7 linked regions of the Homo sapiens genome follow. The protein of the gene in region 1 purifies or fractionates together with the protein of each later gene. This does not show direct contact. Each region holds a gene or a part of one and is shown in the gene's direction. Other genes may lie near its edges. The genes, in order: CYS1, NMT1, EDRF1, UNC119B, SPAG9, NAPA and ZER1.

Region 1 (4,240 bases):
GATCGCTTGAGCTCAGGAGTACAAGACCAGCCTGGGCAACATAGGGAGACTTCGTCTCTACAAAAAGTACAAGAATTAGCCTTGTGTGGTGGCATGTGCCTGTAGTTTCAGTTACTCAGGAGGCTGAGATGGGACCGTTGCTTGAGCCCAGGAGTTGAGGCTGCAGCGAGCTATGATCAGGCCACCGCACTCCAGCCTGGGCAACAGAACAAGACCCTGTCTCGAATAAATAAATAAATATGCCAGGCGCAGTGGCTCACACCTGTAATCCCAGCACTTTGGGAGGCTGAAGCGAGTGGATCACTTGAGGTCAGGAGTTCAAGACCAGCCTGGCCAACATGGCAAAACCCCACCTCTACTAAAAATACAAAAATTAGCCAGGTGTGGTGGCATACATCTGTAATCCCAGCTACTCTGGAGGCTGAGACAGGAGAATCACTTGAACCCTGGAGGCAGAGGTTGCAGTGAGCCGAGATCACGCCACTGCACTCCAGCCTGGATGACAGAGCAAGACTCCATCTCAAAAAAAGTGAAAAATAAAAATAAAACAGGTTCTCCATCTCAGCACGGGGACCGCAGCGATAGAGGTCAAGGCAAAGCCACACCCATCAGAGGGTACTGGGCCAGGCTGGGAGAACCCTGGGGAGCTCCTTGGCATTGAACCAAGTACACCAAGGCCCGGAAGGTGAGGAGACGGGAGCATGAAGACGCTGTTGTCGCGATCCCTTCTTACCCTTGCCCTCCCCCTCCTCACCTGCTGAGCGTTCACAGTGACCCTAGAAATAGAAGTGCGTGACTTCAGGGTGTGTGTTTGGCCTTGATTTTGAATTCTAAGAAGGGGGCATGAGCTGTTGGATCACCCAGCCTCTGTCTGGCTTCAGTGACAGGCATCTCACTGCCTCCTGGGGCAGCCTTTCCCTCACAGGCAGCTCTGACTTAGTCCTCTGTGTTGAACACAACCCACCTCCCTTTAGTGGGGACACACTGAGCCCCTGGGACAGGCAGAAGAAGTGTGGCCTGTTTCCACATGAGCTCTTCAGATATTTGGAGCAGCTACTCTGATCGCTCAATTTATGTCATGGGAACTTTGGACACTGACAGGTTGCTTTCTGGCCTTATTACACATTATCCAAAGTTTCCTCTGCCTTGCATTCCATTAGGCTCATGAAACCTCTATCTTCTATGATTAAAAAAAAAATTTTTTTTAAATATTTTTTTCGGCCAGGCGCAGTGGCTCACACCTGTTATCCCAGCATCTTGGGAGGCTGAGGCAGGTGGATCATGAGGTCAAGAGATCGAGACCATCCTGGCCAACATGGTGAAACCCTGTCTCTGCTAAAAATACAAAAATTGGCTGGGCGTGGTGGCACGCACCTGTGGTCCCAGCTACTCGGGAGTCTGAGGCAGGAGAATCGCTTGAACTCAGGAGGCTGAGGTTGCAGTCAGCCAAGATTGTGCCACTGCACTCCAGCCTGGTGACAGAGCAAGATTCCGTCGCAAAAAACAACAACAACAACAAAATAAAAATAATTAATTTTTTTTCCTCCAGAAAGGGTAATAGGAGATAAACTCTAAGTCTTTGTATGTCTGAAAATATCTTCATTTTCTTAATACCTGATTAATAGTTTATTTGGAATTAAAATTCTGAGTTCAAAATAGCTTTCCCTTATACCTTTGCAGCCATTATAACAGTGGATTCCAGTGTCACTGATGAGCAGGTGAGGCCACCTGACTCTTGGCTTTTTGTAGGTGGCCTGTCTCCGCCTGCTCATCCCTTCCTGGAGACTTTTATTTATTTTTTAAAATTTAATTTTTTTTTTTTCTGAGACAGAGCCTCGCTCTGTCACCCAGGCTGGAGTGCAGTGGTGCAGTCTCAGCTCACTGCAACCTCTGCTTCCTGGGTTCAAGCAATTCTCCTGCCTCAGCCTCCCCAGTAGCTGGGATTAGAGGTGCCCGCCACCACACCCTGCTAGTTTTTGTGTTTTTAGTAGAGATGGGGTTTCACCACATTGGCCAGGCTGGTCTGGAACTCCTGACCTCAGGCGATCCACCCGCCTCGGCCTCCCAAAGTGTTGGTAGCCACCACGCCTAGCTGGTTCATCTTGATTATTCTTTCATGTGCCCTCCCCCTTTAAATGTTTGTGAGTCGTTTTATGACCATTTATATTTATGAACCAAAAACTGGTTGACTAGCACATGCAGTTGGAGTGGGTTTCTTTGTAATCGTGTACACCTATTTACCCAAAAGTTTTTTCCTTTGAACAGAAAGATCTTGCAAGCTCTAGGAAGTTGTAAGCTCAACCCAGGCACCTCTTATGTTTGCAGCCTAAATTCTCATCACCTGGTGGTCCAAAATACTTGAAAGTATAGATTTAATTTGAAGTGGTTTCAGACCAGGGATGCCTGCTATGTGCCTGACAAAAGCAAATGCATCCCCTCTCTGGAGGAAGGCCTCTTAGGCCTCAAAGAATACCCAGAGGGAATTTTTCAATGATGACAAGCTGCCAATGACAAAAAATAATCAACTCCCCAAAGAACCAAGTGAAGACTTAGAAGAAACAAGAAACAAAAATATACCAATGAAGATCTTAGTTACTAGGATCACCAGACACAGACTATAATCAGCTACGTTTATTATGTTTAAAGAAAACACCTGCAAAGGACAAGGACTATAGAAAGTGACCTAGAAGATGTGAAAAAGAACCAAATAGGACATCTGGAAATGGAAAATATAATAAGCAAAATGAAAGATATCAATGGTATAAGTTTAACAGATTAGACAGAGATGAAGAGAGGATCAGTGAGATGGAGAGAGGGAGATAGAAATGACCCAGAACACAGCATAGAGAGACAAGGACCTGATACAAGATAGCTGGAGAAGAAACTACAGCAAATATCATATTCAGTCATGATGTGATGGAAACTTTTTCTTTCAATAAAGGATTAAGATAGAGATGACTGTCATCATCACTTCCTTTTACTGTACTACTGGAGGTCCCAGCCAGTGCAGAAAGGTTAGGGGAAAAATGTATAAGGACCAGAAAGGGAAAAATCAAATGGCCATTATTCCCAGATCATGTGAATGGGAAATAAGAAAATCCAAAGGAAGCCATAAATTACTGGAATTAATAAGAGAATTCAGTAAGACTGCTAAGCACAAGATAAATTCATATATCTCTGACCAGGCCCAGTGGCTCACACCTGTAATCCCTACACTTTGGGAAGCTGAGATGGGAGGATTGTTTGAGTCCAGGAGTTTAAGACCAGCCAGGGCAACACAGTGAGACCCCATCTCTACAAAAAATGAAAAATTAGCTCTTCATGGTGGCACGAGCCTGTAGTCCCAGCTACACGAGAGGCTGACATGGGAGGGTTGCTTGAGCCTGGGAGGTGGAGGCTGCAGTGAACTATGATCAGGCCACTGCACTCCAGTCTGGGCAACACAGCAAGACCCTGTCTCAAAAAAAAAAAAAAAAAAAGAAAAGAATTTTTTTAAAATGTATATATCTCAGTCATTTCTGAAGCATCAAGCAAGTAGAAAATTTTATTTTAAAAAGATAACATTGCTGGCTGGGCACAGTGGCTCACGCCTGTAATCCCAGCACTTTGGGAGGCTGAGGTGGGCAGATCACCTGAGAGGTGAGGAGTTCGAGACCAGCCTGGCCAACATGGGAAAACTCCATCTCTACTAAAAATACAAAAATTAGCTGCGTGTGGTGGCGGGCACCTGTAATCCCAGCTACTCAGGAGGCTGAGGCAGGAGAATCACTTGAATCCGGGAGGCAGAGGTTGCAGTGAGCTGAGATCGCACCATTGCACTCCAGCCTGGGCAACAAGAGCAAAACTCTGTCTCAAAAATAAATAAATAAAATAAAAAGAGATATCCATGGTATCTCTATAGGGAAAATGATAACTTCTTAGAAGACACTAAAGGAGTCCTAAATGAATAGATATTCCCTATTTATAAATTTGAAGACTCATTATTGTAAAGCTATAAGTCCCCCTAAAATGATCTATAGTTTAATACAACCCTAGAAAAATCCCCAAGGTTTTTTTCCCCCAAATATGACAAGCTGATTATAATACATGTATAGATGGTCCCTGATTTTGATGATTCAACATAGGATTTTTCCACTTTGCAATGTTTTCTTCGGGCCGTAACCCCATTGTAAGCTGAGCAGCACCTGTACGTGGAAGTGCCAATAGCCAAGAATCACCAAGACTCTCTTGGAAAAAGAAA
Region 2 (4,240 bases), on another chromosome or scaffold:
GCACACAGTGGCTCATGCCTGTAATCCCATCACTCTGGGAGGCCGAGGCGGGTGGATCACGAGGTCAAGAGATTGAGACCATCCTGGCTAACATGGTGAAACCCTGTCTCTATTAAAAATAGAAAAATTAGCTGGGCATGGTGGTGCATACCTGTAGTCCCAGCTACTCGGGAGGCTGAGGCAGGAGAATCACTCGAACCCGGGAGGCGGAGGTTGCAGTGAGCTGAGATTGCGCCACTGCACACCAGCTTGGCAACGGAGCGAGACTCCATCTCAAAAAAATAAATAAATAAAATTATTTTATTTGTAGTAGAAGTAAGTGATAACCTTAAAAACTTTGACAGTTTGCAGTGGTGTCTCTGTGCATGGTTATGGTCTGGGTGAAAAAATTATGTTTATTAGCGTCCCAAATCTAAAGATCTGTGAAAATGAGTTTGGAGGTAGTAGGTGAAAAACCAAGGGCCTAGTCTGGAGGAGAGAGTCTAATTCTGGCACTAAGAATCTGGGGTAGAGTCAACATTTTTCCATGAACTTTGAGAGGAAATGGTTTTGGGGAGAAGCAGCAATGTGGGAAAATGCAGCACGGCACAGTAGAAAAGCATGGACTTTGGAATAATTTAAATCTGGTCTGAGGCCAGGCGCGGTGGCGCACATCTGTAATCCCAGCACTTTGGGAGGCTGAGGTGGGCAGATCGCTTGTGGTCAGGAGTTTGAGACCAGCCTGGCCAGCATAGTGAAACCTCATCTCTACTAAAAATACAAAAATTAGCTGGGCATGATGGCAGGCGCCTGTAATCCTAGCTACTTAGGAGGCTGAGGCAGGAGAATCACTTGAAAACAGGAGGCAGAGGTTGCACTGAGCTGAGATCTCTCCAGTGCACTCCAGCCTGGGCGACAGAGCAAGCCTCTGATCTCAAAATCTCATCTCAAAGCTTGGCTCTGACACTTAACAGTCCTGTGACCTTGGGAAAGGTACTTAACTCAGAGTTGTAGGGATTAATGAGATAACATCTGGAATGCACTCCTTTTCCTCCCTCCTCCTCTTTCTTCAGATCGTCCCTAACCTCCCAGCTTGCCCCTCTGCTCTTATCACATACTGTATTGTAGCTTTTATCGTAACAATAGTTATAATAACAATAAATATAACTACATGTTTGGTAATTTTTCTTAATGTGTCTGGTACCTGTCTCATCTGACAGTAAGGAGCATGTAAACAGGATTGTGTCTTCGAAATGCCTAGCACTTAGTGGGCATTAATGAGTATTTGCTGTATGAATGAATGGCAGATATTAAAGTGCCTAGCCCAGTATTAGTGGAGTTTCATCTCCCCTCACCAAGTGAGAGGATGTCAGATTTTTCTTACATACACATTTTCTCTCCCCAAATAATTCTCATTGTAAGCCTCACTACAGTTTTTATGAAATACCTACAGAGGCAGGGCATGGTGGCTCACACCTGTAATCCCAGCACTTTGGGAGGCTAAGGCGGGCGGGATCATGAGGTCAGGAGATCGAGACCATCCTGGCTAACACAGTGAAACCCCATCTCTAATAAAAATACAAAAAATTAGCCAGGTGTGGTGGCGCATGCCTGTAGTCCCAGCTACTCGGGAGGCTGAGGCAGGAGAATGGTGTGACCCTGTGAGGCGGAGCTTGCAGTGAGCCGAGATTGCGCCATTGCACTCCAGCCTGGGCGACAGAGCCAGACTCTGTCTCAAAAAAAAAAAAAAAAAAAAAGAAATACCTACAGAAACCAGGAAGCTCCAATTTGCTGTGGAGCTTTCCACTGTTGTGTGCTTTCCACTGTGTTTTGCTTCTTGAAATGTTTTTTGTCTTAATATTATTTAAAATGTTCTCAAAAATCATGTAAAAATTGACAGAGAAGTTTTCCTTTCAATGCTAGAGAGTCTAAAATGTGTAATATATAATAAAGGTTAATGATAGTTCGAGCTAACCCTTATTCTCCTGGGCCTTTTTTTTTTTTTAAAGAGACTGTGTCTCGCTATGTTGCTCAGACTAGTCTCAAACTCCTGGGTTCAAGTGATCCTCCTGCCTTAGCCTCCCAAAGTGCTGGGATTGTAAGCATGAGCCACCACACCCAGCCTCCTGCCCCTTTTTTTCAGGAACTAAAGTCATAGTACTCTATGCTAATAAAATGAGCTAAATTCATGTACTGGATTCTGTTGCCCGGGCTGGAGTGCTGTGGCGCGATCTTGGCTCACTGCAACCTCTGCCTCCCGGGTTCAAGAAATTCTCCTGCCTCAGCCTCCTGAGTAGCTGGGACTACAGGAGCACACTGCCACACCCGGCTAATTTTTCATATTTTAGTAGAGACGGGGTTTCACCGTTGTTGCCCAGGCTGGTCTTGAACTCCTGAGCTCAGGCAATCCACCTGCCTTGGCCTCCGAAAGTGCTAGGATTACAGGTGTGAGCCACCACGCCCGGCCAGTTGTATTAGTTACTTATGTCTCTTTGTATATGAATTTAGTTCTTGACTTTTCTGGTCTTGTGTTTCCTCCGTAATTAAATCAGCATAAACATTTGGTGAATATAAAACTTCATGTGGTTGTGTGTAGTGGCTCATGCCTGTAATCTCAGCACTTTGGGAGGCTGAGGCAGAAAAATCACTTGAGCTCAGGAGTTCGAGACCAGCCTGGGCAACATGGTGAGACCCCATCTCTATAAATAAAAACAAAAAAACCCAAACCCTTCATGTATACATATAGGTATACATGCATACATATGCAGTGTGTATGGGTGCGTCTCTTCAGTTTTTCTATTTAAAAATTTTTTAATTTAATTTTAAAATTATTGTTATTACTTTGGAAACAGGGCCTCGCTCTGTCGTCCAGGCTATAGTACAGTGGTGTGATCATGGCTTACTGCAGCCTTTGACCTGGGCTCAAGCGATCCTCCCACCTCAGCCTCCCAAGTAGCTAGGATTGTAGACATGCACCATCATCCCTGGCTAATTTTCTTTTTAAAAAGTTTCTGTAGAGATGGGGTCTCACTATTTAGCCCAGGCTGGTCTCAAACTGCTGGCCTCAAGTGATGCTGCCACCTTGGCCTCCCAAACTGCTGGGATTGTGGGCATAAGCTCCTGCATCCAGCTGGTTTTGTTTGTTTTTTTACTGCACTCAATTTCCCCCAGTTACGTGCCTAGCGTAATTATCCTGAACAATTGAGAGGAGAGTCAGATAAGATAACCTTTATGCAGCATCCCCCTGTAGTTCGTGATTCATCTATATGGTTTAATTTGATTTTTTTTTTTTTTTAATGAGAGTCTTTCCAAGAAGTATTGCCAAAGAATAAATCTCATCAGTTGGCAGATTTTAATTTGGGGGTAATAAGTGAAGATTGTCTGAGTGTTTTGGAACAAAAAAGAACTTTTAGACTATTGTGTTCTAGGAATCTTTCGGAATTTATTTTGCAGTGTCTTCAGTGTCATTGAGATCCTGGTAAGCACGGGTCAAGAGCCCTCTGACAAGAGGTGTCTCATCTCCATCCTGCTCTCTTACTCCCTGGGACAGGTTAACATGGATTCTTTATAAGTTCTCCTCATTTCCTGGTTGTGAGATACTATCCCTTATGAAAACTTAGGAGGAGAGAAAAGTCTTTCTGAAAATAAATTCCATAAAGCTAGCCTTACTTGTTTTTGTTTTTTTCTTCAGCTTCTCCAAGAGTCGTTCTTTCCCTATTTATTTGATGGCTTATAGCTGCAGCTAGCTCTTGGAAATAAGAAATCTTTTTAGTTCCTTTTTAATTTCTCCCTTCAACTTTTGGTTTTTCAAAACTAGATCAAAGCAGAATGGAAAGAGAAACCTCATCACTGATATCAAATAAGTGTTCTAATTTTGTTTCCCAATTAAATGGCAATTAAAAAGAAACTAATCAAGAGCTGCTTCAAAGAGAAGAGACTGGAAAGCAGAAGAAATGGAAAGTAAATGAGAGCCTATTTCAGGGACTCGCTGCTCATGGCACAGCAGTTTTGCTGATTTTTCACATTGTTCAACTAATATGCTCACGCTAAAATTCCCCAGCTTTACTAAGTTGGCAGTTAACCCTTTCCCTATAGAGCCCATAGATTTATGAGCCATACATTTAGTAACTTCAGGAGGATGCTTCTTTAACTCTTTCTCTTCAGCTTTTTATCTGAAATCTCTACCCTTCAGGCCTCTCTTCCAATTCCTCAAAGAAGATGTCCTTGTGATTGTTACATTTAAGGGACAAAAATATGGTGT
Region 3 (4,240 bases), on another chromosome or scaffold:
CATTCCAGTTGATTTGAAGTTTCCAGTTTTAGAGTACTTCAGAAAATGTGGTAGGAGATGGTTAGGAGAGTGTGCACAGAAGATAAACAAGAAAAATGCAAAGGCACTTTTAAAATAGTGGTAGTAATGTCCATGAAGCCTTTACTCTTATTGCCACCTCCATTCCCCCCTGCTCCATCCCTGTGAAGTAATAAAGTCCATAGATGAAGGGAAGAGAGGTGTCTACTGGAAAATTTCCTAAATGATTCTCTCTCCTTGAGTCACTGACTGTAGTTTCTAGCAAAAAAAAAGGCCAGAAATACATGTGTTTTAAAATCTTGCTGGGTAAAGCCTACCTTCATTTACCATCTTCCCAGTTGAAAACCATTCAAGTGGAATAAAAGTAGTCAGTATGATTTGTTCCATGTTAGAACAGAAATAAGATCATGCCTGAATCTGAGGTTCTAAATCTGGTAGTGATTCTCCATTGAAATTACTCCAATAGTGAACTGCCCTTGCTGATGGGGTGGATGAGATTCCTTTGGGAGGCTGGGGCAGAAAAAAGATTAAAAACCACTGGTTTAAACACTTTCATGCTACATAGGTCTCTGTTTGCAGGACTTCTGCATTTGGTTGCTTTTTAAAAAGAAAGGTGTTGTTTCCTTGGGTTTTCTCTTAAACTGCTTTCCATCTGTCTGTATTTTACAGAAATATGAAATGATAAAGACAGAAGAAATTCCCAATTTGGAAAATTCTAATTTTTCTACTAAAGTCATAAAAGACATTGCACAGAATATTTTATCATTTTTGAAATCTAATTGTACCAAAGAAGGACATACCTATTGGCTCTTTAAAGGTAAGCTATTAATACTTCTTGAGTGAACAATAATTGATTTGGGTAACTGCTGTGAAATGAGTCTTCTTTGTTTTTCTTTTCAGCAAGTGGCAGCGATATAGTGAAGCTCTATGACCTCACTACTCTTTGTGAAGAAACTGAAGACAAATACCAAAATCCATTCACAATGCCGGTAGCCATTCTCTTGTACAAGTGAGTGCTTTAAGAATTTAAGATGAAGAAGTAGCCTATTATATAAAGTTTTAAAGCATACAGTCACAGTTTCCAAACCAAGGCTTTTAAATGCTTTTAGGTTTTCATAGTAGGGGGAAAAATACACGTACACATTGTACCAAATATTACTCAGCTTTCTTATGCCACCATAGTATAAACGTTTTGGGGGTTGTGGGTAAAGTGTAAAGTTTAGTATTTTGTTGTTTCTTATAGCTCTTTGTTGGAAAGAAACAAGAGCACTCCTAGACTTGAGTCTTGCAGACAACGATGAAATGGGCAGTAAAGTTGATATAAACTCTTTTTTTAGGGTTGCTTGCAACATGATGATGAAGAAGAATCAAAATAAGAAACACTATGGAACTATTAGAACATTGCTTCTTAATTGTCTGAAATTACTGGACAAAAGTAGGCATCCTCAAGTAAGATTAACATTTATGTATTCTCTAAAACAATCCTAGCATTCTAATAGGAGATTGTTACCTAGACAGTAAAGCCTCCTGATTCATATTCCGTAACTGCCCTATTCAGTGTGGTAGCCATTAGCACATGTGGCTGTTGATCACTTAAAATGTGCTTTGTCTGAATTGACATGTGCTGTAAGTGTAAAATACACACTGAATTTTGAAGATTGGATGTCTGTACCTATTACATGTTGAAATGCAATATTACATATATTGGATTAAATATATTTAAGTTGATTTCACAGATTCTACTTTTTAAATGTAGCTACTAGAAAATTTAAAATTTCTGTATGTGACTCATGTTACATTTCTCTCAGACAGCACTGCTCAATGAATTTAGAATTCATGTAATTCTAACAGTAGTGCCCTTAGTTCTTTGTTTTGTCGCTATTAGACCTTGTTACCACTTTGTTAATATAAATAGGGTTCACATTCCACACTTCAGGATATTAAAGCATCTCTTAAATAAAGGCCAGTAAAATTTCTTTTAAAGAGAAGGGGAAAAAGCATCTCTTAAAATATTCCCTCAGTCATGCTCCCAACAGTTTTACACCATCCTTACCCTCGGTTGTCTGATTGACAACTTTATTTTTCACTGTTAAGGCTATTTGTTGTATCCTGTTCAAATCAGTAAAGGTATGTAAGATACGCAATTTTTCTTTGAAGAGCCAAAGTAATTTTAATTGTAGCCACATTTGATTTAGAGATAAAGATTATCCTAGAGACCAAACTCAGAAATGTTTTTGAAGAAAAATAGTAAAACATTTTGTTTCTGACTGAAATACCTAATTGCTGACTGAGGTGGCAGTGTTTAGTGGAACTTGAGTGGTTTATTTGGATGTTAGAAATGGTGTTAAAGACTATTGTCTGTGATTAAGAACTGATAAATAGTAGAATGGGTTAAATGGTCATATATAAATGCTAATTTTAAGAGATATCAGAATGGACTTTTCCCTTTTTAATGTAATGGTTTTTTTTTTCTAGAACCATAGATTATATGATAAATATTAGTTACCTATTATAGAGAAACTTGAATTAATTTATAGTTTGTAAAGAAAAATTCTGGTTTCTCACTTGGCATAGGGTGGTATTAAATTTTTGTTAATATTTTAGTTATGACACTCTGTACTCAAAAGCTTTTGTTTGTCTCCAGTGAAATTCAGTTGACACCTTTTAAGAGGGAGGGCTCAGGGTGGAGTAATTTCGGGAAATAGGAAATGCATCAGCCTATAAAGATTTTGCAGAGCATACCCAGAGTATCAGTAGCTTTGAACTGGGAACATTTCTGTGTGTGTTACAGTCTATATGGTGGAAACAGCCTGTGTGCAGACCTCCTCCTAAAATTCGTTAGTATGGTAGTAAAATTCATGTATTTTTTGATGACAGTAATTTACACATATTTCTCTCTTTTTCATAAGATTATTGCTTCCGCCAATTACATGCTTTCAGAACTTTTTCAATTGGATGAACCTAAAAAGGAAGAAAATTCAGAATCTCCTTTAAATGAGAATTCTGATGAAAGTTATAGTGAAGAGGAGGAAGAGATGCCCGACAGTGATGAAAATGGATCCTATAGCACCAGCTCTGATCCATCAGATGATAGCAAAGCAGTAGCTATAATCAAGTCTGTTGGAGAACTATCAGTACCAGAAAAATACAAATCTATTCATCAAATCAGAGTAAGCCTTTAGAATTTATATTAAATTTTTATCAAGGAAACATAATTGTTAATCGAATATAGTTAGCCTTTCAAAAGATACCATTACTTCAATAAACCTTTCATGGTCTAGCATCTAGTAATCATTAGTTTTCTGAATTCTTAAAGTTGGTTTTATAATTGTTCGAGGGTAACTGACCCACATTATGCAAGCCTATAGTGGACAGGTGTGTAAACCAGGTGTCTGTCTATTCTTATGTGAAGGATTTTCCTTTCCAGTGACCAGTGTGTAGTCATAGTCATGTCTCATTACTAGGGCACTTCTATCCGGTGTTGGGGTTGCTGGGAAATGACATATATAGATTGCTTGGTGAACATAGAGTAGAGAAGGGGGTGGCTCTTGGAACTGTATATGGTGAGCTCTGGTACATTATCCCTGTGCTATATAGGACAGTACTTTTTTCGTGACTCTTGTGGTCATGTCTGTTGTATTGGACATGTCTCTGCCCTGGAGAGGGCCAGACAGATTTCTCCCTGTGTGGATTGCACTGACTCTACCATCAGTGTATCTCCAGGCAGTATATACCTTTCAACATACCGTCTCCCTATGATTAGATCCAGGCCAGCCTTAAGAGTTCTGGCTGTTCCCTGAACTGAAATACAGTCGTATTTACAGATAATCTCTTAATTTAAGCACTGAGTGTAACTTTCAGATGGAAACTCTAAGCAAGTTTTTGAGGGGCTATGTCTGTCACCTTAAAACATTGACCATCTTTCTGACCTTCACTTGCTCCATTGGTTTGCCGTGGCCATGCTGGGTTTTTTTTCTCTCAAAAGCATCAAGATTATGCTCATTGGAGGGTCTTTGTATTTGCTGTTGCTTCTGCTTGGAATGTACCTACCCTAGGTCTGTTCATGGCTGCCTTTTTTAAGGCTTAAGTCTTGACTGAAATGTTGCCTCTTCAGGGAGATGTTCCCTGACCACTCTGGCCAAAGCATGCTCTACTTTTTTGTCCTTCAAGGAGCCTATCTGTTCCTGAAGTTCTTAATGTTTGTCTTGCTTCACTAGAACGT
Region 4 (4,240 bases), on another chromosome or scaffold:
GACTTTGATTTTGGCTTCTGCATCCCCAGCAGTAGGAACACTTGTGAACATATCTATGAGTTTCCCCAGCTTTCGGAGGATGTCAGTATGTATCCCCTGACCCTTACAGCACTCTAGATTCTGAGGGCTACAAGGAACAAACCTTGAAACCCATCTGGTCCAGCGCCCTGGCATTGTCTCGTGGCAGTGCTGACATGATGCGTATCTAGTCATTTGACCTCAGGCTTCTCATTTCCTATTGCTCCTGGCTCCTGTTCTAAACTCTGACTCGGCCCGTATGGGAGCAATGAAGGGTTTGTTTGTTTTTGTTTTTGTTTTTTTCCCCTGAGACAGAGTCTTGCTCTGTCTGTTGCCCAGGCTGGAGTGCAGCAGCGCGATCTCGGCTCACTGTAACCTCTGCCTCCCAGGTTCAAGCGATTCTCCTGCCTCAGCCTCCTGAGTAGCTGGGATTACACCACACTTGGCTAGTTTTTGTATTTTCAGTAGAGACGGGATTTCACCATGTTGGTCAGGCTGGTCTCGAACACTTGACCTCATGATCCACTCTCCTCGGCCTCCCACAATGCTGGGATTACAGGTGTGAGCCACTGCCCCCGGCCCTTTTGTTTTTTTCTTTTTTTTTTGAGACGGAGTCTTGCCCTATTGCCCAGGCTGGAGTGCAGTGGCGCAGTCTTGGCTCAGTGCATCCTCCGTCTCCTGGGTTCAAGTGATTCTCCTGCCTCAGCCTCTCGAGTAGCTGGGATTATAGGCACCTGCCACCATGCCCGGCTAATTTTTTGTATTTTTTGTAGAGACAGAGTTTCACCATGTTGGTCAGGCTGGTCTCGAACTCCTGACCCTGTGATCCACCTGCCTCATCCTCCCAAAGTACTGGGGATTACAGGCGTGAGCCACTGTGCTCAGTCTGAAGGTTTTTTTTTTTTTTCTTTTTGAGACGGAGTCTTGATCTTGTCACCCAGGCTGGAGTGCAGTGGCGCAATCTCGGCTCACTGCAAGCTCTGCCTCCTGGGTTCATGCCATTCTGCCTCAGCCTCCTGAGTAGCTGAGACTACAGGTGCCCACCACCATGCCCGGCTAATTTTTTGTATTTTTAGTAGAGACGGGGTTTCACCGTGTTAGCCAGGATAGTCCCAATCTCCTGACCTCGTGATCCGCCTGCTTCGGCCTCCCAAAGTGCTGGAATTACAGGCTTGAGCCACTGCGCCCGGCCGGTCTGAAGGTTTTAATAATACAGGCCATCCTTTTAGATGCCTCCTGTGGGAAGACAGTGCCTAAGGGAGATAAAAGGAGGCCTGTGACCATCCCTGGGACGCTGATCAGATAAAGCACCTCTCCTGTGCACTGTTAGTCATGGTTTTCCATTGTGTTTTAGTCATTGGCCCTTCACTTTTTTCTTAATCAGAGCTAGATGTGAAACTGCAGGCTAAATAGAATCAAGGCCAGAGGACTTCTTTTCCATTCCCTGCAGGATAGAGAGTTGATTGGATAAAGTGTTGAGATAGATCCAGCAGGAAGGAATGGGGCTGTTGTAGATTTTGGGGCAGGAGTGAGAAGGTGGAAATACTGTTTGAGGAAGAGTGGCCTAGACCTGGGGAGGGCACCAGAGGGAGAAGGCTGCTGCCGTGTAGCCTCGGCAAGGGAAGATGGGGACCAAACGAGAGAGAAAGAACAGCCCTTGTCAGTTTCTGCAACTTTGGCCTAGCCACCTCAGGTTCGCATCCTTTGTGAATAGTTAGGGAAAATTCAAGTCATTTATGAGGGTGTGAATAGAATCCTGTGACTAGTGATGCCTGTAGTTGCCTTGCTGGCATCACTGATTGGTCCTCTCAGAATCCCAGGTCCTTAAGAATTGTCATATTCTGAAAACCAGATAACCTTTAATCGTGTGGCAGTACAGTTCCCAGGTAAAATGAGGATTGCTGAGATGTGGGGCAGGGTGTTGACGACAGCATCTGGTTCTGACTTGAACCCCTCTTCCCAAGCTGGCTAGAATATGTAGATACTTGCAAGAAAAGATGATGTATAGTGTTATAAGTTTTACCCATGAAGCCAAATCAGCCTGGAGGGCAATATTATGCATATAAACCGAGTAGTTTTGGCATTGGTGGGTTCAAAGAACTTTAAAAAATCAGTTTCACTTTTTGAGAACTGTGGTGAGCAACAGCATTTCCTCCAGGGGACTCCAAATGGCATGTAATCATTAACTCAAAACTGATCAGAGGTAGTATTATCTTTATTCTCCAGTATGGTTAAAGACTCAAAATGGCATGTAATCATTAACTCAAAACTGATCAGAGGTAGTGACTGTTAATTATCTTTACTCTCCAGTATGGTTAAAGAGGTCTGGGCAATTGCCTGAACAAACAAGACTTTACTTTAGATCCCAAGACAGGCAGACCTATTGCTGAATCATTTGCGAGTTAATACCCAGAAGGTCTCCGGAGAAGGCTCCCTGCCCTGTGTTCCTTGCACTCATTCCAATCTAGGTTTCCTTGGGTTGTCAGGGTTGTGTGTGGAGGTGGGCACAGTGAGGCTCAGATTTCTGAATTTGGAGTGGAATGTCTAGAGGTGGGCCACTGACCAGAGGCCAGGGCTGGCTTTGGTCAGCTGAGAGCACTGAGTAAATAGGTTGGTGGGGTCCATGTTGGGAAGAGGGGTGAGCACATTTCCCTGGTATCTTGGCTGAAGAATCCAGGCTGGAGATGACAGAGGAGGCCATGGTGGAGAGTTGATTGCATCCTTATGTTGAAATGGAGATCATGTTCAGCTGGGGGGCCTCTGTGGTCTCCCCAGCTGTCAAGGGCTGCCTCCCTCTGTTCTGACCTCATCGTTATTCTGGCAGAGTATACTCTGAAGCGCTGGCTTATTTTGGAGGGGATGCAAAGTTTTCTCCCACCTACCCTGTGGGGCAGACTCAAACATAATTCTTTGCTTTTTTCTTCCCCCTTTGCCTGACTTGCAGTTCGTCTAATGATTGAAAATCCTTACGAGACCCGCTCTGACAGCTTCTACTTTGTTGACAACAAGCTGATAATGCACAACAAGGCTGATTATGCCTATAATGGAGGCCAGTAAGTGCTGCAAGAGTAGATAGGGGAGGTGCTTTGCCGCGGCCACAAGATCCTGGCACACGGAGATGATCGAAGCTGCAGTTTGTCAACACACATCTGGAACCTGGCCCCAGGAAGCCAAGGCTGGGGTGGCAGTTTCCTGCGCGCCAAAGGAGCTGCCAAACAGTGCTGTGTTTTCTTCCCCAGTATTTTTTCTTCCCTTTTTTTCCTGCCCCGTAGGTTGCAGAGGTACTATAGTAAAGTAAAAGGTTAGGATAAGGGTCCTGGAATCCAGATAAAAAAGTTTATTTTCCGTAGTTCTGGCTGCCTGTTGGTTGTCTTGACGACCAGGCATAGCTGTGCCTGGTGAGAAGGCTCTGGCCAGGCCCACCAGCAGGTCAGCAGCTCTTAAGGTTCCTGGGTGCTGTGGGAAGCTGAAAGGTAGGCCTCTTCCAGGTAGCTCCTCCTCTCACCTCCGGCATTGCCATCAGCGCAGTCTGCCCTCGGTCTGTGTGAAGTCTTAAACCAACTGGAAGACACTTGAAAGGGTGGGGAGGGAGGGAGGTGCCAAGAGTGGAGGCACCAAGGAATGGGTGATGCTGCCAAGCTGAAGGGTCTGCTTTGTGGAGAGGCTGCTGCTCTGTCTGACTTCCAGGGTCTCAGCCAGCCCTCCTGGGAATAGACCAAGTTTTCAGCCTGGCAGTGCCTTCTGTTCCCATTTTGGAGGACAGACAAGCTTGCTCCACATCTCCTGGCTCCTCCCTTCTGAGTCTCATGAAATAGAATGAGTCAGCTCTGCTCATGGAACAGTAGTATCTCTTGAGGCCAGAGCAGGTCTTGTATTTTGTTTTTTTATTTCCAGACTTCTTTCGGGGAGGTTTTATAAAATGACAGTGGTGTTCCCAGCATATGTGATATGTGGTTAGACTTCTGATAGTATCAGCTTCCAGGGGCTAATCTGGCTTATGTTGGGAGGATATGCTTACGAATCAGCAGCAGCTTTCTAAAGGAGAGATTTGACTTTTCTCTGCACTGCACAGCCTGGAGGATTGGCTTTTGATGGGGATTTGCCTCCGAAGCTCTTTGTACATTTCTTGTTTAGGAGGGTTTTCCTATCTACCTTTCTACTGAAGTAGTTTCTGGAACTTTCCTGGTGGATCAGAGTTACGTAATGCAGTCTGAGCCTTCAG
Region 5 (4,240 bases), on another chromosome or scaffold:
GCGGATCACCTGAGGTCAGGAGTTCGAGACCAGCCTGGCCAACATGGTAAAACCCCGTTTCTACTAAAAATACAAAAATTAGCCAGGTGCAGTGGCAGGCGCTTGTAATCGCAGCTACTTGGGAGGCTGAGGCAGGAGAATTGCTTGAACCTGGGAGGCAGAGGTTGCAGTGAGCCGAGACTGTACCATTGCACACCAGCCTGGGCAACAAGAGTGAAACTCTGTCGCCAAAAAAAAAAAATAATGGTGATGGCTACACAATGTTATAAATATTAATGCCAATATTGTAAATATTAGTGCCACTGAATTGTACACTTTTAAATGGTTAAAGTGGCAAATTTTGTTTATATATATATTATTTTTACTGCAATAAAAGTTTTTAGTGTGATATAAATAAAACAATTTTCTAAATTAAAAAATGAGATTTATTTTTATATTGTAAATATTTTTATATTATAAATGCTTAGTTTTTAATGTTTTACTAATATCTTAATCAACCTATATACTTGGGGCATTTAATTTTTAACAGTAATGGATAGAAGCTTATACTTCAAGTAGTAGCAGTAGTCTTGATGATTTAAAAGAATTTTTTTTTGGCTGATGTTGTCAGATATAATAGATTGTTTTTAACCTGTGGCTGCTGAGGAGCTCACTAAGAACAGAAGCTGGCTAGGCGTGGTGGCTCGCACCTGTAATCCTAGGACTTGTCTGAGGTTGGTGGATCCCTTGAGGCCAGGAGTTCAAGACCAGCCTGACCAACATACCGAAACCCTGTCTCTACCAAAAATACAAAAATTAGCCAGGCGTGGTGGCTCACACCGGTAGTCCCAGCTACTCAGGAGGCTGAGGCAGGAGAATCACTTAAGCCAAGGAGGCGGAGGTTGCAGTGAGCTGAATCATGCCACTGTACTCCAGCCTGGGCGACAGAGTAAGACTCTGTCTCAAAAAAAAAAAAAAAAAAGTTTATTTTCTGACATTTTTATGTTTATTTGCACTTGTGTTAATAGAAGTATTTTCTTAATTTTTTAAGTTACCTTCCCATATTGTGAAGATTTGTTTATGTAAATTTAATGCTACCTGTATTCAACTACCTGTACATCTCACCTGCATAACTCTCATTTCAAACCTGTAATTGTTTTAGTAAAAAAAATGTTATTTATAGAAGTTTACTTTGCTGTTACAAGAAGATTTATTTTTCAGGTGCACGAGAAACAGACTACCCTGCAGGAGAAGATCTTTCAGAATCTGGTCAGGTAGACAAAGCATCTTTATGTGGAAGTATGACAAGCAACAGCTCAGCAGAGACAGACAGCCTGTTAGGAGGCATCACAGTGGTTGGTTGTTCTGCAGAAGGTGTGACGGGAGCTGCCACTTCCCCTAGTACAAATGGTGCTTCTCCAGTGATGGATAAACCACCAGGTATATCCATTCTCTTTACCTGCCATCTGTATAGAGTCTAAGGCTACACTCAGATGCCTCATTATGGACTTAATTTAGATCTTAAGTAACAAGGTTGAAAGAACTTGAAAGAAGATACTGTAGGCCGGGCGTGGTGGCTCACGCCTGTAATCCCAGCACTCTGGGAGGCCAAGGCGGGTGGATCACGAGGTCAGGAGATCAAGACCATCCTGGCTAACACAGTGAAACCCTGTCTGTACTAAAAAGTACAAAAAATTAACCGGGCGTGGTGGCGGGTGCCTGTAGTCCCAGCTACTCGGGAGGCTGAGGCAGGAGAATGGCGTGAACCTGGGAGGTGGAGCTTGCAGTGAGCCAAGATCACGCCGCCGCACTCCAGCCTGGGCAACAGAGCAAGACTCTGTCTCAAAAAAAAAAAAAATGCTGTAATGACTGTTAAATGGAATGAAGAATTCTTAATTTCATGGTACAGTGTGAAGGAGTGGGTAGATGGAATGGAATTCTATAACAGGGGTTTGTGTGGGGAAATAATTGGAGGAGAAAAGCCCAGACTTGGAATAGTGTTTTATTTACTTTGTAGAAATGGAAGCAGAAAATAGTGAGGTTGATGAAAATGTTCCAACAGCAGAAGAAGCAACTGAAGCTACAGAAGGGAATGCGGGGTCAGCTGAAGACACAGTGGACATCTCCCAAACTGGCGTCTACACAGAGCATGTCTTTACAGATCCTTTGGGAGTTCAGATCCCAGAAGACCTCTCCCCAGTGTATCAGTCGAGGTATAATAATGGGTCATCAACTTAGGCAACTGGGTGAAGTGCACAAATAAAAGGAACCAAAATAATCTCAAACAGTCAAAAGATTTCCACTAATTAGTGTCACTGTGGTGGATTAAAAGATACCTATTCTTGTGATAATTTCATGTATTCCCGCTCCATCATTCTCGCTGGATATTCCCCCCCATTTCTTCTGTACACCTTCCAATTTAAAAAAAAAATCTTATCTATAAAAGTATAATCATGCATCAGTCAACAATGGGGATATGTTCTGAGAAATGTGTCATTAGGTGATTTCATCATTGTGTGAACATCATAGAGTGCATTTACACAAATCTAGATGGTATGGCTTATCACACACCTAGGCCATATGGTATAGCCCATTGCTCCTAGGCTAGAAACCTGTACAGCATGTTACTGTACTGAATACTGTAGATAATTGGAACATAACGGTAAGTATTTGTGTATGTAAACATGCACAAGGTACTGTAGAAATATAGTAGTATAATCTTGTGGAACCACCACCATATATTCTGTCCATCATTTTCCAAAATGGTTTTACCAGGTGTGTGACTATATATTAGTCAAAATCTTTCTGTTCATTTTCTCCTCTGATCTGTTTTTTTTTCTTTTTTTTTGTACTTACTGTCTTCCATTCTATAAGTAATTCTTTGTCATTTTAATCCCACCCCTACTCTAATTTTCACTCCAGTTATCAGCAAAATTGGCCATTGTTTAAATCTGCCATTGTACAAGTTTCCCACATGGGTGTGGATGACCTTTTTGAATTTAGTTTTCATGCAAATATTTTATTAAAAAACAACTCAGATAGTTCCAGTGGCTCATGCCTATAATCCCAGCACTTTGGGAGTCTGAGCAGGAGGATTGCTTGAGTCCAGGAGTTCAAGACCAACCTGAGCAACATAGTGAGACCCTCATCTCTACAAAAAACTTAATGATTCGCTGGGCGTGGTAGCGTGCACCTATGGTCCCAGCTACTCAGGAGGCTGAGGTGGGAGGATTGCTTGAGCCCTGGGAGCTGGAGGCTACAGTGGGCCATGATATCACCACTGCACTGCCGCCTGGGAAACAGAACAAGACTCTGTCTCAGAAAACAAACAAACCAAAGAAAACTGTTTGTTTTAGGCTCCTCCGTTAAAGGGTTGGTTAATCTAGGCCCATTTAGTGAATTATTTTATTTTCTTTCCTGCCTTTTCTAGATCCCCTCTAGATGAGAGTCTCTTTAAACTAGATCCTTTTTAAAGTTTAATATTCTTAGTGTATAAAGTAAGAAAGATTAATTAATAACCCATTTATGCCTAGTGGTCCATTATTGGAATGCTAAGCTTGTGGGAGTTATTCATATCCTACTGCTCAAGGTCATCGCTAAGGTCTGATTTTTTACAAAAAAAATTTGCAACCTCCGGCATAAATGGGTTAATATTTAATTCTTTTTTTTTTTTGGAGATGGAATCTCACCCTGTCACCCAGGCTGGAGTGCAGCAGTGCAATCTCAGCTCACTGCAACCTCCGCCTTCCAGGTTCAAGCGATTCTCCTGCCTCAGCCTCCCAGGTAGCTGGGATTGAAGGCATGTGCTGCCACACCCAGCTAATTTTTGTATTTTTAGTAGAGATGGGGTTTTATCATGTTGGCTAGGCTGGTCTTGAACTCCTGGCCTCAAGAAATCCACCCACCTCACCCTCCCAAAGTGCTGGGATTATAGGCGTGAGCCACCGCACCTGGCCTGAATTATTAATTTAAGAATAAGTCATGTTTGAATTTGATAGCCTGGTTATATATCTTTTACTAAATATGCCCTGACAATTCAAAGGAAAGGTTTTGTGATAGAATATTAAACATATTTCAGTTTATTAATTTATTTTAGGTCATTCTTTATATTTCTCCCTACTATTTGTATGTGTGTATCCCTCCCTTCTCTCTCACTTGAGAAGAAACTATGACAAAACCCAAAATAAGAGACAGCCATAGTAATTGTCTGAATATTAACTGCTGTATTTCATTACCATGTCTTATTATCTTTTCTGCTCCT
Region 6 (4,240 bases), on another chromosome or scaffold:
TGTCTTTTCTGCTGCTCAAAACTTAAGAGGATAGGGCCAGGCCTCCTGGTCCTCTTCCAGCTTAGAAACTCTGACTCAGATTCAGCTGGAGGAGAATGAAGGGGAGAAGCCTCAGAGCTGAGCTGGAGGTGGTCAGCTGCACGAGGAGGAGGAGAGATGCTGCTGCCTCCCAAACGTCAGTTAGGAGATGTGTGGGCAGAATGGCTTGGGACCCACAGAAGCTGACCGTGTGCAGATGAGCACAGGATGGATGAGGCTTCAGGCACGGTCTCTTCTGCCCTCCGCCCATGGGCACTGGTCTGCATGTATTCATTCTTGCTGTCCACATCCTGTTTCCCTCTCTGGACATGCAGCTCCTGGAGGGAGCCGGCTCTGTGTTGTCCGACCCCAACTCCATGAGCCTCACAATTCATGCAAGTGCCTTGTCCATGGGGATCTGCAGTGAAGGGAACAGAATGTGAACAGAGGCAGAGGAGTTGGGAGAATCAGGAAGAGCTTTGGGGAGCTGTGGAAAAAGAAACAGGACTTGGAAAGGGGAGTAGATGGGAAGATGTTATGTGGTTTAATCTCAGTTGCCCCTTGCTTCCCAAAATACCCCTCCGAAGCCACCCCATGATTTCAGCCTGTACTTTGCCTTCTAGTGGTGGTTCTGGGCCCTGTGCTTCGAGGCTCCCCTGGGGAGGACTGCCCAGGCCGGGAGGTGCAGGAGGCCACCTCACTCTGTTTTATATCCTTTCCAACTCAGCTCTATCTGCCTTCTCCTTGGATCTTTAGAAGTGGTGGCCCTGGAAATGCTGGCATAGCTGGGATTAGGGACATGGTGTTTTACCTGGGCTTACCCTGGCTCTCTTTCCATATACCTGGGGCTCAGGGCCTTCCCCCGAGGCAGCTTCCTGCCGCCCTCAGAGACTGTCAGGTGGGCCACCAGGAGCCTCAGCGCAGGAGCCAGCAGACCTGAGCGCAGGAGCCAGGAGACCTGAGTTCTAGGCCTCGGTCTGGGCTCGCTCAGGTCACCCTCGTCCTGTCTTGGGGACTCTTTCCGCATTCTCGAGAGCCCGACCCACCTCCCAGGGCAGTGTCTCTGTGGCTTCATAAAGTGTGGAGCCCCACTGAGGCCAGGACTGCCCTTCTCTTCTGTTCCAGCTGCTGGAAACGCGTTCTGCCAGGCTGCACAGCTGCACCTGCAGCTCCAGAGCAAGCACGACGCAGCCACCTGCTTTGTGGACGCTGGCAACGCATTCAAGAAAGCCGACCCCCAAGGTGAGGGCCTCTGCGGGCCACACGGGCTGGCTGTCCGGAGCGCCATCCTAGCACCCTGCATTGATTCCTCAGGTTTCCTGGCGGCTCTGGTTTTTCCAGTGGCCGACATGTGATAGGCTGGCAGGGGCGTGCCTGAGGCAGAGTGAGCGTTGACTTTAGAACTGGCTCTCTTCCTTCCAGTTGGCATTCGCGCCCTGCTCAAGTCTCCGCCCCCCTATCTACCGTGTCGGTGGTGTCGGTGCAGCTGATCACCCCTTCCCAATCCCGGAGCATTTGGGAGTGGGAGTTCCATTGCAGACCCACCGCCTGCCGGGGAGAGAGGAAAATCTGTTCTGTTGTCAGAATTAACATGCAGAAGGGAGCGGTGTGGGGGGCGGGGAGGATTCTGAGACCAGCCAGGTAGGAGTTGCTGCCGAAAAAGGAGCGGAAATTAGCCCAACCTGGCTTCCCTACATCCTGGGGAGGAATTAGAGAGAACAGAGCCCGAGATGTAGTTGCCAGAGAACAAATTACTTAAAATGAGAGCGTGCTAGGGACAGAAACCCAGTTTGGGGCTGACTCATGGTGAGAAAACAGTTTTGTCCCCCTGGGTGCCTCCCGAAGAGGAGGTCCAGCCCAGTGTTTGCTTGCATGTGGCGGGAATTTTAATTTATTTTTTAAAATGTTGGTGCCAGGTACAGGTTGCTAATTAGAAAGCACAGGCAGTTTTTAAAAATGACCATCTATTGTCACTGTCATCTCAGGGGAATGGAAAATATATGAATCTTTAAAAAATAAAAAGCAGCTATATAATCTTGGAATAAAAGCCTGTCCTTCCCAAGAGAAGACAGGTTTGCAGCAGTGCAGGGAGCTTCCTCCATGGATCAGTGAGCACTGGTTCACATGGCGTGTTTGAGAACTGCTGGCATACCCCTTTGTCGTGATCTGACGTGTTAGTTCCCAGATGAGGATGAATTTGTGTTGACCAGTAGCTCTTCTCTGTCCTTAGACTGACCAGTTGCTCCTCAGCAGCTGGGCATCTCATGCGTTGGCCTCAGTGGTCACATGGTGGGGCTCAGGCCTGGCAAGAGGCCGAGGAGCAGCCTTGTAACTGGGTGGGCCATGGGGCTTGCCTGGCTGGTAGCACTGGGCCACAGCAGGCTGCGTGGTTGATGCAGTGATGACCCAGGGAGACCCTGGGTTGGTTTTAAGCTTGATTCACCACATGGAGTCTCCATGCCTTCCATTAAACTGCCCCGCCAAGCCTTTCCTTCTGCTCCCTGGGAAACTGGTTGGCCTAGAGGTGCTGTCTTAGCATCTGTGACGTTCAGCTGCTGCCCCATCTGGAGTGACTGGAAGGACACTCTGGGGCAACACTGAGCGCCAGGCTGCCGAACAGAGAGTGCCATTTGCTCTTTCAGCAGACCCCTCACTTCCTGCAGACAGGCCCTGCCTGGCAGTGGGATATGGTGGGGTCCCTCCCCTGCGTTTGATCTGAGCTTTTCTAGCTCTCCAGCGAGACTCTGCAGGGTGTGGGCCTGGAGTCTGGATGTGGCCCCTCCCTGGCCTTAGGAAGCTCAGAAGGTGGCTGAGGACTCCGACCGGTAGGAAAGTATAAAGATGATGTTACATCCAGGGCACAGAGGCCAACTTGCACAGAGCTGAGGCTGGGGGCGTGAATTTGGCTATGGGAGATCTTTCAAGGAAGAAAGGGGGCAGTTCTGAAAGGAGAGCCTCACCTGGGTAGAGCTGAGAGCAGGTGCCGTGTCCAGAGCCCTGGGGACGTGGTGTTGAGCAGGGAAGGGTGTTAGTGCAGCTTCCAGAGCTACAGCCTAAAGATACGCACGCCAGCCATGACTCCCAGTGGGGCAAGGGGCACATTGGCATCAAGGGCAGTGGCTGCTTTGTGTCTGAGGCTAGTCAGGCCTCACACAAGGCCAGGTGCAGTGGCTCATGCCTGTAATTTCAGTGCTTTGGGAGGCTGAGGCAGGAGGATCGCTCAAGCCCAGGAGTTCAAGACCAGTCTGGACAACATAGTGAGATCCTGTCCCCAAAAAAAAGCCTCACAGAGAATGTCATGTAGCAACTGTGTGTGGCTCAGCAGCGCAGGTGGTGGGTGGTCTGGGAGGACCCTGCCTCCCCTGTGATCCTGGGCAAGTCAGTCTTTTGGGCCTCTGTTTCCTCGTCTGTTAAAGCAGAGACTGCTGTGAGATGATGCAGTCATGCCCAGCGCGGCACCTGGTGTGTGATAAACTTCCAGTCAGGACACCCTTGGCTTTCATCAGTCCAGGGGCCCCTGCCTGCCCTGGGCTCCCCACAGCCTCTGCCCTTGGCCGGGTGCCTTGTGAGACAGCGCTGGAGGCCCGATTTGGAACCTTGCCTGGCTTCCCCAAGCAGGTGGCCGGTACCCTGGGGCCGTCCTCATCACTGGTCTCCTCAGCAGCCTAGAAGGCCTCTGTCTTGGGTCAGCACTTCTAGGGCTTCCTCCAGGACTCCCTCCAGAAGGACCTGCCCCCAAGTGGCAGCTGGAGTGTGCCTGAGGCCCGACTGGGCTCCCGAATTCCTCTCCCTCTCGCAGAGGGTGGCCTGCTGCCACCTTGGTGGCTCTGGGTGGGGAAGGGTGATGCTCATATGTGTTATTGGTTCCTCAGTTACCCAACCATGGCTGCTGCTCAGGGCAGACTCGGGCCAGCGAGGCCTCTTCCCAGGCCTGCCTGATAGTTGGGGGTGGGGGCAGTGTGTGTACCTGGGGCAGAGAAGCGACCTGGCCCCTGCTTGTCCCCCACTTCCTCCCCAGCTGCCATTTACTGGGTTTCTACTGTGTACCAGATGCTTGGCATCTTTTAACCCATTTGATTTCTTTGTGCATTCTGTGATTTGCCCCCATTTTACTAAGGAGGAGATGACCAAGTGTAACCAGGAAGGGCTTCAGAGACGCAGAAGTCAGGTTGGGCGTCGCTGGTAGGAGTGACTGCGGGGATGGGCGGTGGCCTGGGCCATA
Region 7 (4,240 bases), on another chromosome or scaffold:
ATGGCCTGGTGGGGCCTCCTGAGAGCCCCCACTCCCAGGGAAAGCCCCTCCCTGTCTCCTCGGCCGTTGTTCTCAGGCTGCCCACAGCTGGCCAGAGCCCACTACGCTACGAGCTGGACAGCGGGTCTGTTCATCCTTAAACACATGCTCTGTTTTCCTGCTTTAATTTCTAGGAGGGTCCCTTAAACTAGTATTTTGAGCTTTGGTGAACAGAACCACGTCTGTCCCATAGGTCAGATCTCTAATCAACCTTTGTCTTTGTGGCAAGCAATCCCACCCCTTTAATTCCTTAGTGTGTGTACCCAGCACTGACCTAGGAGCATTGGAGGGTAGGAGGGCAGCATATATGCCCCCTCTTTGTCTAGTTGGCATGGCCAGATGCCCATGAAGCTTTTTGGTTAACAATACCAGATACTAAGTCATTAAGTACTAATTGATGCGGCCCATTGGCTCTCCTTTTCCCAGGAATTCCCAGAGAAGCAGGAACTGCATAGGAATATGCTAGGACTTTTGGGGAATGTGGCAGAAGTGAAGGAGCTGAGGCCTCAACTAATGACTTCCCAGTTCATCAGCGTCTTCAGGTTGGTATTTTTAATCCTTTCCCTTTTTGCCTTAGCTGCCACAATGCTCAGAGCTCTAGCGTTTGCTCAGTTGCACAACTGCTCTTAGCCTAGGTTTGCTATAAATGTCATTTTCCCTCGATAATGTGGTTTCTTATTCATTCAATCCTTCGTAAGTGGTCCTTTTGTAATTATATCTTTTTTTTTTTTTTTGAGATGGAGTCTTGCTCTGTCACCCAGGCTGAAGTGCAGTGGCACAATCTAGGCTCACTGCAAGCTCTGCCTCCCGGGTTCACGCCATTCTCCTGCCTCAGCCTCCCGAGTAGCTGAGACTACAGGCGCCTGCCACCACGCCCAGCTAATTTTTTTGTATTTTTAGTAGAGATGGGGTTTCACCATGTTAGCCAGGATGGTCTCGATCTCCGGACCTCGTGATCCACCTGCCTTGACCTCCCAAAGTGCTGGGATTACAGGCGTGAGCCACTGCGCCCAGCCTGTAATTATATCTTAAATGACCTCAAATCCCTTTAGAAGTAGTCTGGGTATATAGACGATATGGGATAAAGAAATAAGTAGCACCTCTTGCTTCTGGTTTTAAGTTGGGGTCCTGCCGCTGGTATCTGAAGAGAAACTGGGGGAGTGGGACTCCATTTTTCTGTCTTTCTCCTGGCAGCAACCTGTTGGAGAGCAAGGCCGATGGGATCGAGGTTTCCTACAATGCCTGCGGCGTCCTCTCCCACATCATGTTTGATGGACCCGAGGCCTGGGGCGTCTGTGAGCCCCAGCGTGAGGAGGTGGAGGAACGCATGTGGGCTGCCATCCAGAGCTGGGACATAAACTCTCGGAGAAACATCAATTACAGGTGTGGGCAGGGCAGGGAGCGGGGATGCGGTGTGGAATATGGGGTAAGTGCTGGGCAGGATGCTCATACCATTAAGGTCTGCTCAGAGCTCCCACCTTCCTTCTGGTCTTCTGTAGGGTTCTGCTTTCACTCATTGATACGTAGCCGCACACAGCACAGAGCATACATAAGGGCACGATCTCATCCGTGCAGCCTGGAGCATTTGTCATACATGCCAACATCTGCATGTACCCAAAGCCTGCTCTTTGCAAACCACTAATACCTACTGATTTGTGGGGAGGGGTGGGGAGAAAATAGACACACAACAGAAAACCATACAGGTGGGCCGGGCACAGTAGCTCTTGCCCATAATCCCAGCACTTTGGGAAGCTGAGACAGGAGGATCACTTGAGCCCAAGATTTCCTTTCTTTTCTTTTTTTTTTTTTTTTGAGACAGAGTCTTGCTCTGTCGCCCAGGCTGGAGTGCAGTGGTGCAATCTCAGCTGACTGCAAGCTCTGCCTCCTGGGTTCACGCCATTTTCCTGCCTCAGCCTCAGAGTAGCTGGGATTACAGGCACCCGCCACCACGCCCGGTTAATTTTTTTGTATTTTTAGTAGAGACGAGTTTTCACCGTGTTAGCCAGGATAGTTTCGATCTCCTGACCTCGTGATCCGCCCACGTCGGCCTCCCAAAGTGCTGGGATTACAGGCATGAGCCACTGCGTCCAGCTGAGCCCAAGATTTCAAGACCAGCTTGGGCAACATAGTGAGACTTCCTCTTTACGAAAAATTTTAAAAATCAGGCCAGGTGCAGTGGTTCACGCCTGTAATCATAGCACTTTAGGAGGCTGAGGCGGGCAGATCACGAGGTCAGGAGTTCAAGACCAGCCTGCCCAACATGGTGAAACCCCGTCCCTACTAAAAATACAAAAATTAACCTGGCGTGGTGGCACATACCTGTAATCCCAGCTACTCAGGAGGCTGAGGCAGGAGAATCGCTTGAACCCAGGAGGCAGAGGTTGCAGTGAACCGAGATGGCGCCACTGCATTCCAGCCTGGGCAACAGACCAAGACTCCATCTCAAAAAAAAAAAAAAAAAAAAATGAGCTGGGTGTGATGGTGCACACCTGTAGTCCCACCTACTGGGGAGGCTGAGGCAGGAGGGTCACTTGAGCCCAGGAGGTCGAGGCTGTAGTGAGCCAACATCATGCTACTGCACTCCAGCCTAGGGGACAGAATGAGACCATTTCTTTAAAAAAAAGAAGAAGGTCAGGCGCGGTGGCTCACACCCGTAATCCCAGCACTTTGGGAGGCAGAGGCGGGCGGATCATGAGGTCAGGAAATCGAGACCATCTTGGCTAACGCAGTGAAACCCCACCTCTACTAAAAATACAAAAAATTAGCCGGGCGTGGTGGCATGCGCCTGTAGTCCCAGCTACTCGGGAGGCTGAGGCAGGAGAATGGTGTGAACCTGGGAGGCGGAGCTTGCAGTTAGCCGAGATCGCGCCACTGCACTCCAGCCTGGGCGACAGAGCGAGACTCCGTCTCAAAAATAAATAAATAAAAATAAAAATAAAAATAAATTAAAAAAACAAGAAAACAAAACAGGGCCGGGCACAGTGGCTCACACCTGTAATCCCAGCACTTTGGGAGGCAGAGGCGGGCAGATCATGAGGTCAGGAAATCGAGACCATCTTGGCTAACGCAGTGAAACCCCACCTCTACTAAAAATACAAAAAATTAGCCGGGCGTGGTGGCATGCGCCTGTAGTCCCAGCTACTCGGGAGGCTGAGGCAGGAGAATGGCGTGAACCTGGGAGGCGGAGCTTGCAGTTAGCCAAGATCGCGCCACTGCACTCCAGCCTGGGCGACAGAGCGAGACTCCGTCTCAAAAATAAATAAATAAAAATAAAAATAAAAATGAATAAAAAAAACAAGAAAACAAAACAGGGCCGGGCACAGTGGCTCACACCTGTAATCCCAGCACTTTGGGAGGCTGAGGCAGGCGGATCACCTGAGGTCAGGAGTTCGAAACCAGCCTGGCCAACACAGTGAAACCCCATCTCTGCTAAAAATACAAAAATTAGCCAGGCATGGTGGTGGGCACCTGTAATCCCAGCTACTTGGGAGGCTGAGGCAGGAGAATCACTTGAACCTGGAAGGCAGAGGTTGCAGTGAGCCAAGAACTCGCCACTGCACTCCAGCCTGGGCAACAGAGTGATACTCCATCTCAAAAAAAAAAGAAGAAGAAGAAAACAAGAATCGTTCATAATCTCACTCCCTGAAAGAGAACTCCTGTTGACATTTTGGTGTGTCTCCTTCCAGCAGTGTTTCTATGCACAGATTTCATTACTTTAAGTCAAGCTGGCATCAATTCCTACTGTTTTGTGACTGACTGGCCAATCACCAGGCATGGATCTCCCTCGTCATTTTAGGACGGAGTCACTTTCTTTGTGCCATCCTGTACAGATGGACATTTCAGTTGAAAACCCATACTGGGAGGAACAGGCTGACATTGGTAGCGTTGCCAGTGTGCCAAGTACTATAGTTCTTGGGGAGAAAGGAAGCGGAATCGCTGGCCCAGGAGTTTTGCACACACGTGTTTCAGGCTTTTGGACCATGACTCCAGGCTGGCCCACAGAAGGCCCTCGTCAGAAGAGCAGTCACAGGCCGGATGCGGTGGCTCACACCTAGAATCCCAGCCACTTTGGGAGGCCAAGGCAGGAAGATCACTTGAGCTCAGGAGTTTGAAACCAGCCTGGGCAATATAGTGAGCCCTCACCTCTACAAAAAAAAAAATTTTTTTTTTGAGACGGAGTCTCGCACTGTCACCCAGGCTG

The links.
Region 2: the proteins of CYS1 (region 1) and NMT1 purify together in Homo sapiens (affinity purification with mass spectrometry; one large-scale study listed by BioGRID and IntAct). This does not show direct contact.
Region 3: the proteins of CYS1 (region 1) and EDRF1 purify together in Homo sapiens (affinity purification with mass spectrometry; one large-scale study listed by BioGRID and IntAct). This does not show direct contact.
Region 4: the proteins of CYS1 (region 1) and UNC119B purify together in Homo sapiens (affinity purification with mass spectrometry; one large-scale study listed by BioGRID and IntAct). This does not show direct contact.
Region 5: the proteins of CYS1 (region 1) and SPAG9 purify together in Homo sapiens (affinity purification with mass spectrometry; one large-scale study listed by BioGRID and IntAct). This does not show direct contact.
Region 6: the proteins of CYS1 (region 1) and NAPA purify together in Homo sapiens (affinity purification with mass spectrometry; one large-scale study listed by BioGRID and IntAct). This does not show direct contact.
Region 7: the proteins of CYS1 (region 1) and ZER1 purify together in Homo sapiens (affinity purification with mass spectrometry; one large-scale study listed by BioGRID and IntAct). This does not show direct contact.

Annotation. Positions count from the first base shown.
Region 1 is NC_000002.12:10,066,646-10,070,885, reverse strand, and holds part of CYS1 (cystin-1), read left to right. Parts: intron 1-4,240.
Region 2 is NC_000017.11:45,063,909-45,068,148, forward strand, and holds part of NMT1 (glycylpeptide N-tetradecanoyltransferase 1), read left to right. Parts: intron 1-4,240.
Region 3 is NC_000010.11:125,732,717-125,736,956, forward strand, and holds part of EDRF1 (erythroid differentiation-related factor 1), read left to right. Parts: intron 1-687; coding exon 688-835; intron 836-918; coding exon 919-1,027; intron 1,028-1,355; coding exon 1,356-1,467; intron 1,468-2,927; coding exon 2,928-3,188; intron 3,189-4,240. UniProt on the Homo sapiens protein: Transcription factor involved in erythroid differentiation. Involved in transcriptional activation of the globin gene.
Region 4 is NC_000012.12:120,716,958-120,721,197, forward strand, and holds part of UNC119B (protein unc-119 homolog B), read left to right. Parts: coding exon 1-85; intron 86-2,962; coding exon 2,963-3,075; 3' UTR 3,076-4,240. UniProt on the Homo sapiens protein: Myristoyl-binding protein that acts as a cargo adapter: specifically binds the myristoyl moiety of a subset of N-terminally myristoylated proteins and is required for their localization.
Region 5 is NC_000017.11:50,987,629-50,991,868, reverse strand, and holds part of SPAG9 (C-Jun-amino-terminal kinase-interacting protein 4), read left to right. Parts: intron 1-1,200; coding exon 1,201-1,419; intron 1,420-1,996; coding exon 1,997-2,192; intron 2,193-4,240. UniProt on the Homo sapiens protein: The JNK-interacting protein (JIP) group of scaffold proteins selectively mediates JNK signaling by aggregating specific components of the MAPK cascade to form a functional JNK signaling module.
Region 6 is NC_000019.10:47,497,653-47,501,892, reverse strand, and holds part of NAPA (alpha-soluble NSF attachment protein), read left to right. Parts: intron 1-295; exon of another isoform or gene 296-436; intron 437-1,143; coding exon 1,144-1,260; intron 1,261-4,240. UniProt on the Homo sapiens protein: Required for vesicular transport between the endoplasmic reticulum and the Golgi apparatus. Together with GNA12 promotes CDH5 localization to plasma membrane.
Region 7 is NC_000009.12:128,737,113-128,741,352, reverse strand, and holds part of ZER1 (protein zer-1 homolog), read left to right. Parts: intron 1-465; coding exon 466-581; intron 582-1,233; coding exon 1,234-1,422; intron 1,423-4,240. UniProt on the Homo sapiens protein: Serves as substrate adapter subunit in the E3 ubiquitin ligase complex ZYG11B-CUL2-Elongin BC. Acts to target substrates bearing N-terminal degrons for proteasomal degradation with the first four residues of substrates being the key recognition elements.